Linked DNA regions of Homo sapiens: region 1 is linked to region 2. The links come from fine-mapping of genetic effects on gene expression. Tissue or cell type: fibroblasts. Region 2 holds a variant in brackets; the other region holds the start of a gene. All regions are shown on one strand. Distances are between the middles of the regions.

Region 1 (8,180 bases), 140 kb after region 2:
GCTCAGTGGAAATCAGCATAAATTGGCCTAAACCTGAAAAACTGTCCTACAGTCTCATGAAAGATGATATATGGTTATTATTCTAAGCCACTAAATTTTGAGGTGGTTTGTTTTTCAGTTAGGAGCACCAAGAATTAGCAATAGCTAATAATGGCAGAAGTCAATAATGTCTTGTAGGTTAGAAAATAAGATAGAAATAAAATATGCAACAATAAATAGGATGGACAAATGAGCAGAATAGAAGCATTCTAAGGTGAATAAAAATAGATTAATTTTTCTCATATAATAAGAAATAAGCATTATGGAGCTGGTGCAGTTATTCAAAGTGAATAAAAAATAGATTAATTTTTCTCATATAATAAGAAATAGGCATTATAGAGCTGGTGCAACTGTTCAGGAAATTTATCAAAAACCTAGACTCTCTCCATTTTTTCTCTCTACAGTCCTCAGTTTTGGCTATCGCCTTTATGTTTACAAAATGGCTGCTGTACCTCCAGGCATTGCAACTGTGTTCCAGGGAGAAAGAGAGAATATGATGAGTCTCTTCTTTTTTTAACTAGGAAGTATCTTTTGTACAGGCTCCGCCTTGTGGAAAGTAGATTTCTGTTTACATGTCACTGGCCAGAACTCTTGTCACATGGCCATACCTAGGTACAAGGAGCCTGGGAAATTGACATATATATTTTTTCTAGGTGATCTGCTTTCCCAAAGAAAAACAGGACTCCATTATAAAGCAAATGTAAGAATGGGTGTAGTTTAGATGACAAGCAGTCTCTGCTCTCTATTTTGGAGAAATCCTCTTACTTAAGGAACTAATCCAAAAGGAAAAGCAAACAATGTCCTTGGCATAAAGATTAAGAGACAACATTACACAGGGTACAAGGCACTGGAGTGAGACTCCTAGTCCTAGCTCTGCAGCTGACTTGCTGGGGAACTGATCCTCAGTTTCCTTCCCTTTAAATTAAGACATTGGAGTAAATAACATGTAAGCATTTTAAACAACAAGTAAGTCTGTAAAGACTGAAGGGAATTAACATTTATGACAGATTCCTTAATGTGCAATAGCTCATTTAGACCTCACAACAGTATCTCCCTTTACCCTGGGGGATGCTAAATCTCAAAGCAGTCAAATAGTGTTCCCAGACCCACATCTAGTGAGTGGCAGCCAGAATTTCAAGTCGGGTCTGTAGGCCTCCAAAGCCAGAGGCTTCTTTCTACTGCCCATCCAACCTTTCTCAAAAGGCAAATAAGGTCATGCATTTTTATTTACTGAATTTTAAGTAAAGCAGTGTCTTTTGAAGCGGGCCCAGTGCCACTTGCAGCAGAATCACCTGGGATGTCTATTACAAATGCAGATTCCTGAACCTTCTCCACATGAACTGAAGCAGACTTGCTAGGGCCGAGGGAGACCCAGGAATCTGTATTATTACAAGCTCTCCAGGTAATTGGAGAGACTTTACAATTTGGGAACCATGATTTTAAACTAATAATTTAGTGTTCCATTCTAGTGTAGTTTATTTATGGATCTGTGGCTCATGGAAATTTCCTCCTAGTATCAGGAAGATACAACTTAAAAATAGTCTGTTTTTCCTTCCTATTGTATCCACTGAATTCCACGGAAAATGTTAAGGAACTGGAGGTGTGATTAACACTGATTAATCTAGGCTCCGTACGTCAAAGGCACAGACTGACATGAACATACATGCTGATTAGAATCATACAGAGCTGGAAGGGGATGGGCAAAGAAATGGCATTAGCTAAATATTTACTATGTTCCAGACACTGTACCAGACACATTACGTCATTTAAGGGGCCCAAGACAAGTGATTCAATCCCTTTTATTTATAAACGGGGTAGGTACTATTATTATTTACATTTTAGAGATGAAGAAGCTAATGGCCAGAGAAAAACAGTCACTTTCTGAGATCATTCATTCATTCATACAATAAAAATCTCATTAGCTCTTATCTTATGAAAGACATTGCAAATAGAGCAGCAAAAAGGCAGTCTAGGGACCTCAGGTGGCACAAAGTCCACCAAATCTCCATTGAAGAAACTGGAACTGAGAGGGCAAATTGGGACTGGAGCCTGCCAGAAGCCATCTCTCTGGAATCCCTCAGCCTGAGCAAGAGGGGAGTTTGCTGCTGAGGCTGCTGGAGCTGCGGTGTAGAGCAAGTTGCAGGCCTCTGAGCCTGTTGGAGGTTCAGAAAGGTTAGCTGACTTGCTTAAGTAAGTGTCCTAGACAGGAGGGAGAAAGCGCGCGGGTCTCAGATCCCAGCTCCAATATCCACGCCTTTTCCCTTTTCATCTCCCGGAAGGAAGCCTTCACAGGTGGGGAAAATGCTCACCCAGTGACTCTAAAGTAGTGCACAAATTGGCATTAATCAGAACCATTCTGATTCCTGCTATCAAGGTTTATTTAATTCTAAGCTCAAATGACACAGAAAATAAAATTTCCTCCTTAAAAGGTTCTGCGGAAAAATATTCTCTGTTCTACGTAACAGCCTCCTTGGCTGTGTTTGTGTCTGAAGAAAGGACTAGTCTGACAGGAAGAATTACAAATCTGGAGCTCATTTTGGCGTCGCAGAGGGAAGGTGGGTGGAGCGTCTCGCAGTAAATTAGGAATTCAGAATGAAAACGTAGAGTTTATTTGGGTTTTTAGTGACACCTCAGGATTATTATACAGCAGTGTCAGACACAGCTCAAAGTAATGATGACTGCTCCCCCTCCGCCCCGCGGGAGCTGGGTGCTAAGAAGGGGGAACCCCTCCTTTGAGGGGTTGGGGTGGGGATCCTCCCTTTCCAACCTGGATCGGGAAGGGGTTTGAGAGGAGTGCGGCTTGGATCCCCATCCTGGATCTGTGCTGGAGGGAGGCGGGAGGCTATTTGGGGGTGTGTTTGGGCTCAGGATCTGGGTCTGACGCTGGGATCTGAGGACTTTCTGGGTTTGGAACTGGGTGGGGGAGCTGGGTTTGGGGTGACCGCTGGGAGCAGGAGGAAATAGGAGAGTGAGTCGCATGTGAAGGGCACTGAGGAGGGATCTTCGGGGGAATGCTGAAGTTGATGCGTGGACTTGGAGAGGGGAAGTTGAAGTGGATGCAGGGGCCTGGCGCTGCAGCGGATCTGGGTGGCATGTGCTGGGATTGCCAATGCGGAGCTGTGAATGGGGTCAGGGTGGGGCTGAGGCAGTACCAGATCTTCCGCGCCTAGAGGAGGTTAGAAGAAAAGAGCGTCGAACGGCCACAGCCTTTTTCCGAAAGAGACTCACACAGACACACCCATCGCTCTACCCGGCCCTCCGGGGCTAGCGGCTGAGCGGTGCTGGGGCTGGCAGACCCCGCCCCCACGCGGCCTCTCGGAGCCGGGAGCCGATCGGGCCGGGGCTGGGGTCTGGCGGCCCAGCCCCCGGGGAGCGTGGGGCGTGGCCAGAAACCGGCGCTCGCGGCTGCGGATTGGCTGCCTGGCGGGCCCGCAGGCGGGGCTCCCGGCTGGGTCCCGCTTGGCAGCTCGCGGCGGCGGGGAGGCGGGGCCGGCGGGAGCCCGGCAGCCAATGGACGCGCGTCCTCCGAGCAGTTACAAAGGGCCGGAGCGAGGCCGCCGCGGCGGCTAGGGAGGTGGGGCGAGGCGAGGTTTGCTGGGGTGAGGCAGCGGCGCGGCCGGGCCGGGCCGGGCCACAGGCGGTGGCGGCGGGACCATGGAGGCGGCGGTCGCTGCTCCGCGTCCCCGGCTGCTCCTCCTCGTGCTGGCGGCGGCGGCGGCGGCGGCGGCGGCGCTGCTCCCGGGGGCGACGGGTGAGCGGCGGCGCGGCGGGCGGGCGACTGCGGGGCGCGCGGGCCGGACCCGGCCTCTGGCTCGCTCCTGCTCTTTCTCAAACATGGCGCGGGGCCGGGGGCGCAGGTGGCGGCGCCGGGGCCCGGGCCGGGCTCTCGTGGCGCCGCGCGGCTCGGCGGCTGCCGGGCGAACCGCAAGCGGGGAGCGGAGGCGGGGCAGGGGCGTGTGTCCGGGCGCGGGCGGACGTGTCCGGCTGCCCGAGGCCGCCCCGCTCGGGACTCCCCGGGGAGGTGGAGTCGGGCGGAGTCGTCCGAGGTCCGGGGCTGCCCTCTGGGGTGTGAGTGGGCGAGGGCCAGGGGCGGAGAGTGCGAGGCCGGCGGGGACTGGCAGAGCCGTGGCTGCCCGCCGCCGCCCCCTGGGCACGGCGTGACCTTGTTCTGGGGACCCCCGCCCCAAGAGGGTCCGTGCCAGAGGCTGCCGAACCCGGGGCGGGGTTTGAGGTTGGGGTGGAAGGCGGCTCCCGGGCGGGGTGTGAGCTCCGAGCCTCTAGGGCTTCGTCCAGTGGGAGTCGGGGGCGACGTGTGGTGAGACCCCTGGGTCCGCAGGCCGCCCTGACTCCCGCCCGGCTCGACCCGAGCCGACCCTGCTGGAAGGGGCTGCTCCTCCAGCCAGGGGGGCTTTGTGTGAGAAGAAGGAAGCGCGGAGATGCGCGGAATGTTTCTTCTTTCGTGCGTCTGGGGAGTGTTGAAGTGAGTCCAGTAACCAGACGGCTACGGATTGTTTTCATAGTGGAAACTTGAACGTTTGCTCATTCTGCGGGTTTTGGAAATTTTGGGAACGACTGTGAATTGATTAAACGCTTTTTATTTCCTCGAAGGAACATCACTCACGTTGTTCCTTTTCTTGAGTGACAGTTAATAGTTTGATTCAGACATCTGTATAGCTGGTTTTCAAGGAAGACTGTTGGCTGGATTTTTCAAAATAGTAAATCAGGTTGGGGTAGGTGGTTGGTATCCACAAAGGGATGAGTGAAAAACTTCGTTAGCAGCTGAACTGAGACACTAGAAGCTAAAATACACAGCCTCAGTGTTAGCAACTAAAATGCAGTGAAAGTACATTTCTGTTTCTGAAACTGGACAAAAGATGTTGAAATTTTTTTAAAAAATCAAGACTGACGGTGACGATTATAATCAGTCCTAATAGCTACCGTCTATGTATTGTGCATTACTACGATGTAAATGCATACACTATTGTATAATTACATTATTTAATCACCACAAGTAAACTCCCAGGAGTAGTGGCATTTGCCCCACTTTACAGATGTGCAAAGTGGGGTACAGACACGTTAAGTACCCAATAACTTAAGTGCTAAAGCTAGGATTTTCACTCAGATCTCAGTTTCCCAAACCTGTATGTCATATATATATATAAATATGTATACATCATACTATCTGGCGTAGCCCATTTTTCTTCTTCAGTCGTCTGATGAGCAATTGGTCTTTATTATCCACTTTGGATTCTGTCCTCATGATTTGAGTATCAGATAGGCTTCATTCCGACTCTTAGCACATTGTTGAGTCCCTTCACGTGGGCCTGCATTAGAGGAAACAATGGATTTTTGACATTGGCCTAGGGAGGAAGGCAGGATAACTGTGTGGACATTTGGGAGAATCAGTATAGTTAGGCATGAAACACAGGTAACATTTCCACACCGCTATTAACTTGAATAACACAGTGCACTCTTTTCCACCAGAAGTAGCACAAGAAGCGTTCATGTATTCAAGTAACAGTAGTGGACTTAGTTGAAGACACAGAACATTGCTCAGTCCATGTCCTGGAGGAGTTTACAGTCTCCATGGTATGCACAAAATACAAAGCTGTCCAGGTGCTTATTACTCTAAGCCCAGACTGCCTCAGCTTGTCTGCCTCCCCTGTTGGTTATGATGATGCCTCAGTCCACCCTTAAAAAACATTCTGAAAAAGGTCAAATGCTTTTTATTTCCTCTGTAACTTGGCTTCCCTTTTAAAGACTTGCACCTTTTTATGTTCTGAGTATGTTTTAATGTTCTCTGCCCAACTTCTGTCTCCAACATAGGTTTCTCTAGGGAAATTGATTCCTTATCCCTAGTGCACAGTTTAGTACCACTATGTCTATATGTATATCCCATCTGAGAATGCTATTTGCTTCCTTTCTGCCATTTCATAACTTTTTTTCTTTGAAAACGTGCCCCCAATCCAACTCTTCTATGAATGCCTCTTGAATGTCTCCTCCTTTCTTGGTATGCAGCCTTCAGCTTAATCCTGCCTGTTATCCTCCAAATCTAGTTGCTTTCCCATGTTTTTCTCATCTAGGCTTTTCTATGGCTACTGCCAAACTAATCTTCCTCAGCCTTCCCCGTGAAGGTTTATAAGATTTCCCATTTGTATTCAGCACTTAGAACAACACTTAGCAGCTTATGATTGGGGCCATCTCTGAGTATCCTACCAGGGATCTCATTTCTCATTACTGCAGACCTTCGAGCAATTTCTCTTTCTCACTGACTCCTGACTGTTCAGCCTTTTCACTACACATTTAGTTTTGCCCCTTTTTTTGGGAGTGCGAGAAGTTCTCAGCCCTGACTTCCTGTGCTGGTTTAGTTCTTGAATTCTTTGTCTTCCAGAACTCTGCAACACTTAACAGTTTGTGTTGTCCATTTCTACTGCCTGTGCTGCTACTTAACTCTACTTGAATGCGTTATAGGTACCCAGAGGACAAGATTCATGCCATTTCTTTCTTTTGTGGCCTCAGAACTTAGCACTGTGTTTTATATTCTATTCCACATAAATGCTTGTTGATTTCTATTTGAGCATTCCTTTAATATTTATACTGTTTTATGTAAGTCCAGTTTATGCAATATTAACTTGTAATTCCGTATAAATAATCAGGAAAAGTTGTATGGCGTGTTGAAAGCAATTGGTTATTTGTCCTACCTTCACCAGCAGTTATGCAGAAAATGGGGCAATACCTACTTTTGCCTAATTCATGAGATTGTGAAGATCACATGAGAAAGTGGTATTTGAGTTTGAGGTTGCTATTCTGTGTTGTTGCTAAAGAGCAGGACTGATGTTCAATAAGCAGTTCCCACTGGGCCATGTGTGTTTTGGTTAAACATCCTTTCTGATTGGTTGGTACCCTTGTAGTGCCAGTTGTTAAATATTTTTAATATCATTTCTATAGGGAGGCATTAGTATTCAAAAAGGGAAATGATTAGTGTAAGCTGGAATGATTGGGGGAGGCTTCTTGGACACTTTAGGACTTACACTGACTTTGAAGGGTGGGTAGAATTCAGAGGGGGATTTGATGAGTGTGAAAGTTCTTTTGAAGTTGTGTCCCCAACTGTCCTGGGGCCTACTCCAAGGGAGGAAACAAGGCTTTTACTGACTGACTGGCAAGTTACTCTTCAGAGTTAGGTTCCTTATTCTGTACTGTGGAATTTGGATGTATTAACCTCTATCATTTTTTCCCCAATCCTAAAAGCTATAGTACATAGCTGGAAACAAAACATAAAAGTAATCAAAGTGGAATGAGTGAGGGAGAATAACATTATGGGATGCCCAGTAGGACTAGGCATTCAAATGGTGGAAGTCCTAAGTATATTATCACTTCAATTTACAGATGAAAAAACGACTCAGGTGAATTTCTTAGGGTGGCACAGGGGCAGAACAGAGACAGGAACTTTGATTTTCTGATTCCATATCTTGTGCCCTATATGGTGCTTTAAAATGTGAAGGACTTGGAGGTGGGAGTGGGACAGGGTTGGGATAGGTGGTTGGCATCCACGAAGGGATGAGTGACTTCCTTAAGTGAAGTAGGCCTTGAACTTCACAGAATTTATGAAAAGTGAATTCTAAAGGTGGAAGGGAGGGGGAATGATTAAAGCCTTAAAGTTCTCAAGGAAAAGGTCAATTTTTTTTTAATTGCTGATAAAAGGACCTGGTATATACTTATTGATTGAGAAAAGTAGGCCTATAGTAGTTTGGAAGATGGTCTTGAGTAAGTACAGTTAATTGAATTGGGGTGTAGTTAGAAGGCTTTGGTTTAGAATATTAGATGATCCGCTTTGTTGTTGAAATTAAGAGAGGAATTGACATAAAAATAATCAAGAGGAAGATAAATCTTGTTCCTGTGAGGAGGGCCGCTCATGTAGGGAAGACCCCTGTCAAAAGGTTCTAGGCCTTAGTTGAGCAGTTACAGGGACTCAACACCATTCTTGTAGTGTCATTTTATTGCACCAAATATGTTCATGTGTAATAAATGGAATTTTGAAAATGCCATTATCCTATGGATGGCCCTTCTGATGTGAGAACGTGTCTCTTCAAACCACAGAGCCCCTTGCAAATGTCGACACACCTCTTGCCTTTTGCAGTTCT
Region 2 (8,180 bases):
GAAAAAAAGGAGGGGTGGAAGAAACCATTTCTCACTGCAGAGTTTTTCCATGTGACATATTTTCTAATTTTATTTCAGGTCTAACTGTCTGCAGTAGATGGCTCCATTTCAGGGTCTTCCCCTCCCCTTTTAGTATATGAGCTTTCATTAAGGAATGAAGTGGCTTTATTTGTTTAATATTTGCAAGTGTGGGCTGATATCAAATTGCAACTGAATGTCTTCATTTTCTCGGCGGAGGGAAGTTCTCTAAGATGCCCCGCACTGGTTTAGTGGCTCGGATTCCTTGGTTCTAGGCCTGGTCACAGGAGCTTTGCCAAGTCCCCTCCATTCTCTGGACTTAGAAACTCAAAGTGAGTATTCCGCAAAGTGAGGAAAAGGCTGGCTCATCACGGAGATAGGGTGGCTGGATTGGAAGCCATGGCTGATGCGCCCCATTTCTAAGAGTGGTTCCATTTGAGACTGTGTTGGAATGGTATGCAGCTCAGTTTATGTCTGTGCTCAGCTCCTGTCATCTCTGCACTGTTGCTTTAGTTCATGGAATGGCTGAGAAATTTTTCATACCTGGAAAGAGTATTGTAGCTTTGTTTTAAAGAAATTAATTCTGGCCAGGCATGGTGGCTCACATCTGTAATCTCAGCACTTCAGGAAGCCGAGGTGGGAGGATCTCTTGAAGCCAGGAGTTCGAGACCAGCCTAGGCAACATAGTGAGACCCTGTCTCTACAAAAAAAAAAAAAAAAAAAACTAAAAACTAAAATGATCTGGGTGTGGTGGCATGAACCTGTAGTCCCAGCTACTCAGGAGGCTGAGGCAGGAGGATCGATCACTTGAGCCCAGGAGACCACCATGCCTGGCCAGAATTAGTTTCTTTAAAACAAAGCTACAGTACTCTTTCCAAGTTATGAAAAATTTCTCAGCCATTCCATGAACTAAAGCAACAGTGCAGAGATGACAGGAGCTGAGCACAGACATAAACTGAGCTGCATACCATTCCAACACAGTCTCAAATGGAACCACTCTTAGAAATGAGGCTGCAGTGAGCTGTGATTGTGCCAGTGTACTTCAGCCTGGGCAACAGAGTGAGATCTTGCCATAAAAAAAAAAAAATTAATTCTGCCCCTGCAATGTCTGTTGCATGCAACCTCTCCCTTCTATCTTCTTGCCCTGCCTGGCTTCAGGCCTGTGTTACCTCTTTCTGCTGGGTTGCTACAGCAGCTCCCTGGCCAGCAGGATCTCCCATCTCTCTGTCCTCTAGCATGGCTTCTCACTGTGAGTCAGAGTAGCTTGTCTAAAACACAGGTCCCATCATGTCACATCCCCTGTCAAAACGCTTCCATGTTTTCTGTGACGCACAATGCATTCCACACTCCTTGGGTTGCAGTTCAAGGCCTCTTCTCCTCTCACATCCCTCCCCGTACCCTGGCTCTACCACCCTGAACTGCTTGCTGGTCTCTGAATTGACCATGCATGTTCCCTTCTCCAAGCCTTTGCTTGCGCTGTTCCTCAGCCTGCCCTATGGAAATCCTCTGCATTTTCACCTTGATAGACTTGTTGCTTAAACTGTGGTCCCTGGACCAGCAGCATGGGCATCATCCAGGAGCTCATTAGAAACAGAGTCCCAAGGCCGGGCACAGGGGCTCACACCTGTAATCCCAGCACTTTGGGAGGCCAAGGTAGGGTGATTGCTTGAGGCCAGGAGTTTGAGACCAGCCTGGGCACCATAGTGAGACAACATCTCTATAAAAAATTAGCATGATGTGGTGACATGTGCCTGTACTCCCAGCTACTTGGGAGCCTGAGGTGGGAGGATCGCTTGAGCCCAAGAGGTTAAGGCTGCAGTGAGCCGAGGTCACACCACTGAACGAACCCCAGCCTGGGTGACAAAGGGAGACTCTGTTTCAAAAATAAAAAAGAAAAAAAAGAAAAGAAATACAGGATCCCAAATCCTGCCTCAGACCCACAACATCAGATCTAGACCCACAGCATCAGATCTAGACCCACGGCATCAGATCTGTACCTTAACCAGGCCCCCAGGTGATGTGTGTGGCACTCAAGTGTAAGCTGCAGTGCTGTGTAGCTTGGAGGGCAAGTGCTGAATCTGGGCAGTCAGATAGAGCTGGCCTGGTTCCAGGCTCTGCATGTATCAGTTGGTGACCTTGGACAATGTACTAATCCTTTTGAAACCTCAGTTTCCTCATCTGTAGAGTGAGGAAACTATAAACGAAATAACGCCCCAAGCTCTTAGCACAGTGCCTGGCACATGGAAAGCCCTTAATGAAGGGGAGTGGCCAGTAACAAGGTTCCATCTCAGTGCTAGCTGATGTTGTGCCTAAGCTGTCCTGTGTCCTCTCTCAGCATTGCTTGTATTGGGTTTATTCCATCAGAGGTGAGAACTCATTTGTAAGTCCATCTTGCTGAGGATGGGAAGGGCCAGGACCAAGTCATTTGTGTTTGGAGTTTAGAATCATTGACCTTCCAGTGGAGGGAGATAAACAATCATAATCTGATGTGGGGAAAGTGAAACATAGCTAAACAAGGACTTTGCAAAGTGGGTGGGATGGAATTCATTCCAGAGTTTCTGCCCTTGGTAGAAATGGCCATTCTGCCTGTTGTAACCTGGGGGCTTTCTCATTCATCCATTTGTTTACCCACTTTTATGTAATATGTATTGACTGTTCTCTGAATACAAGCAATGTGTGATATCCTGGGCAGAAAATGAAAAGCAAGATAGGCTTGCTGCTTGCCCTCTAGGATCCTATAGTCTAATGGGGGACATTGATGCTAAATAAAGGATTGTACAAAAAGACTCTTTATGTTTATAAATGGTAGAAAATGTTAGAAAGTGCAATGAGAGCTATGAAAGCACATGCCAGGACACTCTCATCTGTACCAGGGTGTCAGGAGAGTCTCCCCAAGGAATGGGATTTAAGATGAGATCTGAGGGGTGAACAGATTTAGCCAGGAAAGGAGGTGGGGATGATGGGCTGGAAGAGGAGTGGAATGTTCCAGATACAGAGAAACAGAATGAGGAGAGGATGGAAGAGACAGCCTGAATGTGGCTCGAACACGTTGAGGGAGGAAGGCAGGGTGAAGTTTCTGGGATGAAAGCAGGGCCTTCGCCCAGGAGCCGTTTTTCCTAGCCTGGCCCTGGGGGAGCATCTTGGCTTCCCACCCTCGGTCAGTCCTGCAGCACTACCGCCCAGGGCCACCCGGGGTAAAGGCCTTTGGTCTAGGTAGAGTGCAGTCAAGCCCTGGATTCTACTACCTGCCTTGCTCCTGCCTCTGCTTATCAGACAGTGAATTGCTTCAGGGCGGGGGCAAAGGGTCTCTACCTTTACATAGCGTAAGAGAAGAGAATTTAAGAGACTTGCAGTAAAATGTCAGGAAGGCAGAGTCAGAAGAAAGCCCGGAGCCAGCACAAAGAGCCCCTGGTCCACCTTGGCCTCTCAGGGCCTCCCAGGCCACGACAGCTGCCTGGCAAAGAGGTGGTGGAGGCAAGTGAGGAAGGTTTCTAACAATTGCTGTCTGCGGTTAGACTCCAGTCAGTCCTGGCTTTGGAAAGCTTCCTCCCGTCTATACAACGAAGAGGTCGGACCAGCGCTAAGGTCATCCAGGTCTGACATGATCTCTTTTTATTTTTTATCTCTCTCTGGATCTCTGTATTGAGAATGTGCATCCGTAAACATAGGAAGAATTCTCTTGCCAGGGAACAGAAATGCGGTTTGGGGAGGAATAACTCGGGTGGGAGGTTTTTAGATGCTTTCACTCAGGGGAGCAATTCCTTTAGACATGGTTGTACCCGTGAGACGTGGGGGATGCATTACGCCTCTCCTGTCCAAGCCATTCCTTTGGAGACCTGCTTCTCAAATGGGTGTGCTCACAGTCCTTGGCTGTGTGACA[C/G]TAGCATGCGAAGAGCCACATTGTTTATTTCCTGGAGGATTTTACTCAGTGGTTGGTAATTTGTGGTGAGGAGACCAGTAACAACTGGGGAATAATTTGGAACATTTTTATATTATTAAAACAAACACACACACATGTTTGGAGTGGAATTCAAAACTTAAGTGCTTTTAAAGATAAAGCAAGAGAATTAAATTTTCAAGGTCCTGGGGGGCTCTTTGGCTAGACTCAGGCCCTCAGGTTTATCTGATGACAGAGTGCTTTAGCAGAGATGATGTTATATACAGATTTGAGGTCCCCAACTTGTGGGGGATATTTAGAATTATTGCAAAGGATACATGGACATTTTCTGTCTACAGATACCTAACACCTGTGTGTTGAGGGGGCTATTAATGCTTTGATATTGACAAGATGGAGATGGTCACTGCCCTCCAAAGCTTTGGATTAGAACTGTCAGCTCCAAGAGGGAAGGAACTTGTCTATCACTGCTGGATCTCCGGCACTTAGAATAGTGCCTGCTGTACAGCAGGTGCTCAATAAATGCTTCTGGAATGAATAGAAATGTGTGTGTTGATGGCCATGAGAAGCTTTCATTTCTCCATCCACGTTTACCTTTCCAGGAATAGCGTGTGGAGCTGCTTTAGCATGGAGATCTTGGGTGGAATGTGAAGAATGCTGTCATGCATATGCATGTGGGAGGCTGGTCAGCCTTGCTCAGGTTCAAGATTTCCAAGAATCACTCTTTGGAGGCAGCCTTCCACCCAGCGTGGTCCATGCTGCATAGCGTAGGCTCCTTGTGTGAGAAGGCACAGTTCACCATTTATGCACCTTAGGTAGCTAGGACCCACTGGGCCTCACTTCTCACAATGCCTGCAAGTCCCCCCAAACACCTTACTCCCATCAGAACCCACTGGGAACCTGAGGCCTCAGAAAATGCTGGACTTTGGGGATCAACTATTCCAGCTCCCCCAAATTGCAGACGGGAAGATGGAGGTTCAAAGAGAGCAAGGAACTTCCTGGGAGTCACACACATTTTAGCGATGTGACTCCCAACAGGTTCCTTGTTCTAGAACTGGGTCTGGAACTACGTCTTCTGATATCCAGGTGGGTGGCATCACTCCATTTTGAAATTCCCCAGTGCTGCTTGATCACATCCGTACCATTCTCAGGGATGTGCTTGACAGTAGTGTGTGGTTAGAGCTGAGCTTTGGAAACATCACATGAACTTTAAATCCTGGTTCAACACTTTTTTTAATTATGTGACTTGGGCACATTGCTCAGAAAGAGTGTGGGTTTCCTCATCTGGATGGTGGTGGTGGGTGATGGGTATAGGAGTCCTACCTCCTGAGGCTATATGAGCTACTCAGCAGGTAATGCCCAGGAGTGCTCAGAGCCAGGGATGGGGAACCCAGTGCTGAGCCATCCATCCCACAAAGTTAAGGTCATGCCCATCCCGTTCACCCCAAATCTCCATGACTTGCAGTGCCAGGCATGTGACGGTGTGTGCTTGATAGTCATTTGTGAATGAACAAATGAATGAATGAACAAAATGGACAGAATATGCTTAGCACCTGACATTTGCCCTGTGCCACCACCCTGAGAGCTAAGTATTGCCACCTCTATTTCCAGATAAGGAAGCTAAGGCTCAGAGAAGTTAAAGAACATGCCCAAGATCACCTGGCTAGTACGTGGCTGAGCAGGGACTTACATACAAGTTTCTCTGGCATCAAATTCCACGTCCTTTGCCCTGCACCATTCTGGGGGAGGCTGGTCCTCCTGGGGTTCCCCCGAGGTCACCTCCCCTCCCACCCCCCCATTCTTGGTCTCTAGTTAGGAGGTGTCCACTGGGTTTTCATCTTGGAAGGTCTGATTCCCTCTCCCATTATTCTGGTGGTCCACAGGCTGTTCCTCCAGCAAACATTTGGAGACTGTCAAGCTGTACTTTCATCTAAATTAAACAAGAGTCAGCCTGTTTCAAAATATGACTTCAGGGTCACCATCTGTTCTGGCTGTTCCCTTAAACTCAAATCCCATTTTGGAGCCAAATGGGGCTCCAGCATCCCACAGAGAGTGTGTCTCTTTGCACAACTGAGCAGGAAAGTCTGTAGAAAGACACAGTGTGTTTGACAACAACCCTCGGACAAATTTCTCTGGTTATTTCTTTTCCCCTACTCAGCAGCATCAACGTCATTGCATGTGAACCACAGGTCCCCACCACAGATTCAAATGCATTCCTTTCTACATTGGGTACCTAGTGTGTACCAAGCTCTGTATGAGGCCCTTTCCCATGCCATCTTCCGGGTCATGGGAGAGAGTGGCCTGGATCTTACAGTGGGGGGAATACAACATGCCAAAGCTGCTCGAGCTGGTCACACCATCAGTCTGGGCATCAGTTTTCTCATCTTGGGGACATTGGACTGGGTATTTTCTGAGGTTCTTCCCAGCTCTGAAGGTTACCCTGATTCTTCATCAGCGCCTTGGCCAATGTAGGCGAGATTTCACGGTGCCCACTGAAGCTATGAGCTCGTTCTGACTGCGCTGCTTGTCTGCCCTGGCTGAATTCACACAAGCTCATCTGTTGGGACGCCCCGGGCTGTTCCCAGGGCAGCTTGATTTTGCCCAGGGCATAACATGCCAAGTGCTGAGAGGCTGCAAGAAAGTATGTCTCCTGCTGTTGCCAAACTATCGCCTTCGCACCACATTCCAGATCACCCAATTCCACCCTCTCCTTGGCAAGAAAAAGAAAGGGGACCCAACTGCCTAGGGCAGCAGCTTGGGGTGAAATGAGGATTCCTCCTAAAATGGTCAGCTAGAACCTTCCTCAGGAATCTGCCAAGGCACCCGGTTGCCTGTTGCATAAATTTTAGTCTCCTTGGCTGGACATTTGAGGCTCTCTGACTCCAGTCTCCTAAAGGAAAAAGAATTGAGAGTAGCAAGAGCTGGGAAGTCCCAACCACTGCAGTTAAGGCCTGCAGTCTTAAGCTCCTTCAGCTTCAGTCATCTCATCTGAAAATGGCATAGCCACAGTCCCCACCCCATCAGACTGCCTTGAGGTTAGGTGAGCTAATGCACCTAAGTGCTGAGCTCAGGGTTGGCCTGTTGTGAGATTAACATTTCTAAGTCTGAATCTCTCTGGATCCATAATTCTCTCCTTTTTGCTCCAATGCTGGAGGCTATCTCGGGGTCCCATTTCTCCCATCCTTGGAATCACTCACTTGGCCCTTGTTTTCCTAATTGTGTGGGTTTGCTCATGCTCTGCTCACTCCACTGTGTTCACCTGTGTGAAGCATCTCAGGCCTATCTCCACTGGCCCTTCCTTCAGGTCCCCTTCCCAGTGTCCCCCAGTGGGCGGGGAGTGCTCCCTCTTTAAGCCCCTACAGGACTTTCCTGTCCTTTGCTTATGGCTCCAAGCTCAGGTCACCTGTATCTGGGCCCCGTGTTGGTGTCTGGTCCTTTTTTTCCAGGGGACCCAATTCCTTGTCCTCTTGATCCCCCAGAGCCCAGCCCAGGTCACCTGTATCTGGGCCCCATGTTGGTGTCTGGTCCTTTTTTTCCAGGGGACCCAATTCCTTGTCCTCTTGTTCCCCCAGAGCCCAGCCCAGCGCCAAGTCCAGACAGGGTTGGAAAGTGGATGCTGGTTGTGGACAAGGCCAGACTGGGCCCAGGATAGAATGAATGATAGTAAGGTCCCCTCCTGACTCTTCTTCTGGGAGGGAAGAGAGAGGACCATTCTCCCCTAGGGAGATGTAAATTATGGCTGCCTTGAGGCCTGTGGATAACAACTCAAGAGATTTCATTGACCCCATAGTATCAATCATGCCAAAGAAATCAAGAAACACCCCAGGCCATGTTTCACTTAGAGAAAGACTTAGAAAGCTCAGAATTAAAATACTCTTTCAAGCTCCTCCTATCATTCAGTGCTCCTCCCAACCCAATGCTGCACCCCCATGGAGGAGATGGGGGGCCTTCTCCACACAGGAGGACCAGGGATCTTACCGTTCTGCTCCTGGGATCTCCAGGGCTGGCCTGTCCCATCCTACCTTGCCCCATGGCCCCAGCTCATGCTCTGACACCCGGATAGGCCATGAGCAGCCTCCCTGAGGCCTCTAGCCAAACCTCAAGGACCCTAACAGTATATAACAGAGAAGGGGAAGCCCGGTTGTTCACATTCTCCACCCAGACCATGTTGCAGAGGGGAGGAAGATGGAGGCAGCTGGAAATGAGTCTGAAGTCTGAGAAGCCAGTGTGTTTAAGAGAGTCACTCTCATCTCAGTGAAGGAGAGCC

What was found. PIP is the estimated chance that this variant, and not a neighbour inherited with it, causes the effect.
Region 1: it holds the start of TGFBR1, and the variant in region 2 is fine-mapped to the expression of TGFBR1 in fibroblasts (GTEx, PIP 0.93).

The regions. Positions count from the first base shown.
Region 1 is chr9:99,101,513-99,109,692 of GRCh38, forward strand. TGFBR1 (transforming growth factor beta receptor 1) reads left to right here and starts at 3,601. Exons shown (of 9, transcript NM_004612.4): 1 at 3,601-3,790. The coding sequence starts at 3,694. RefSeq lists silencers at 3,129-3,728, 3,819-4,328.
Region 2 is chr9:98,958,506-98,966,685 of GRCh38, forward strand. The region is part of intron 2 of COL15A1 (collagen type XV alpha 1 chain); the gene reads left to right. Among named protein-coding and RNA genes, the nearest start is that of COL15A1-AS1, 18 kb to the left of the region's middle. RefSeq lists enhancers at 3,250-3,750, 4,251-4,835. The variant C/G (reference allele first, on the strand shown) is at 3,899.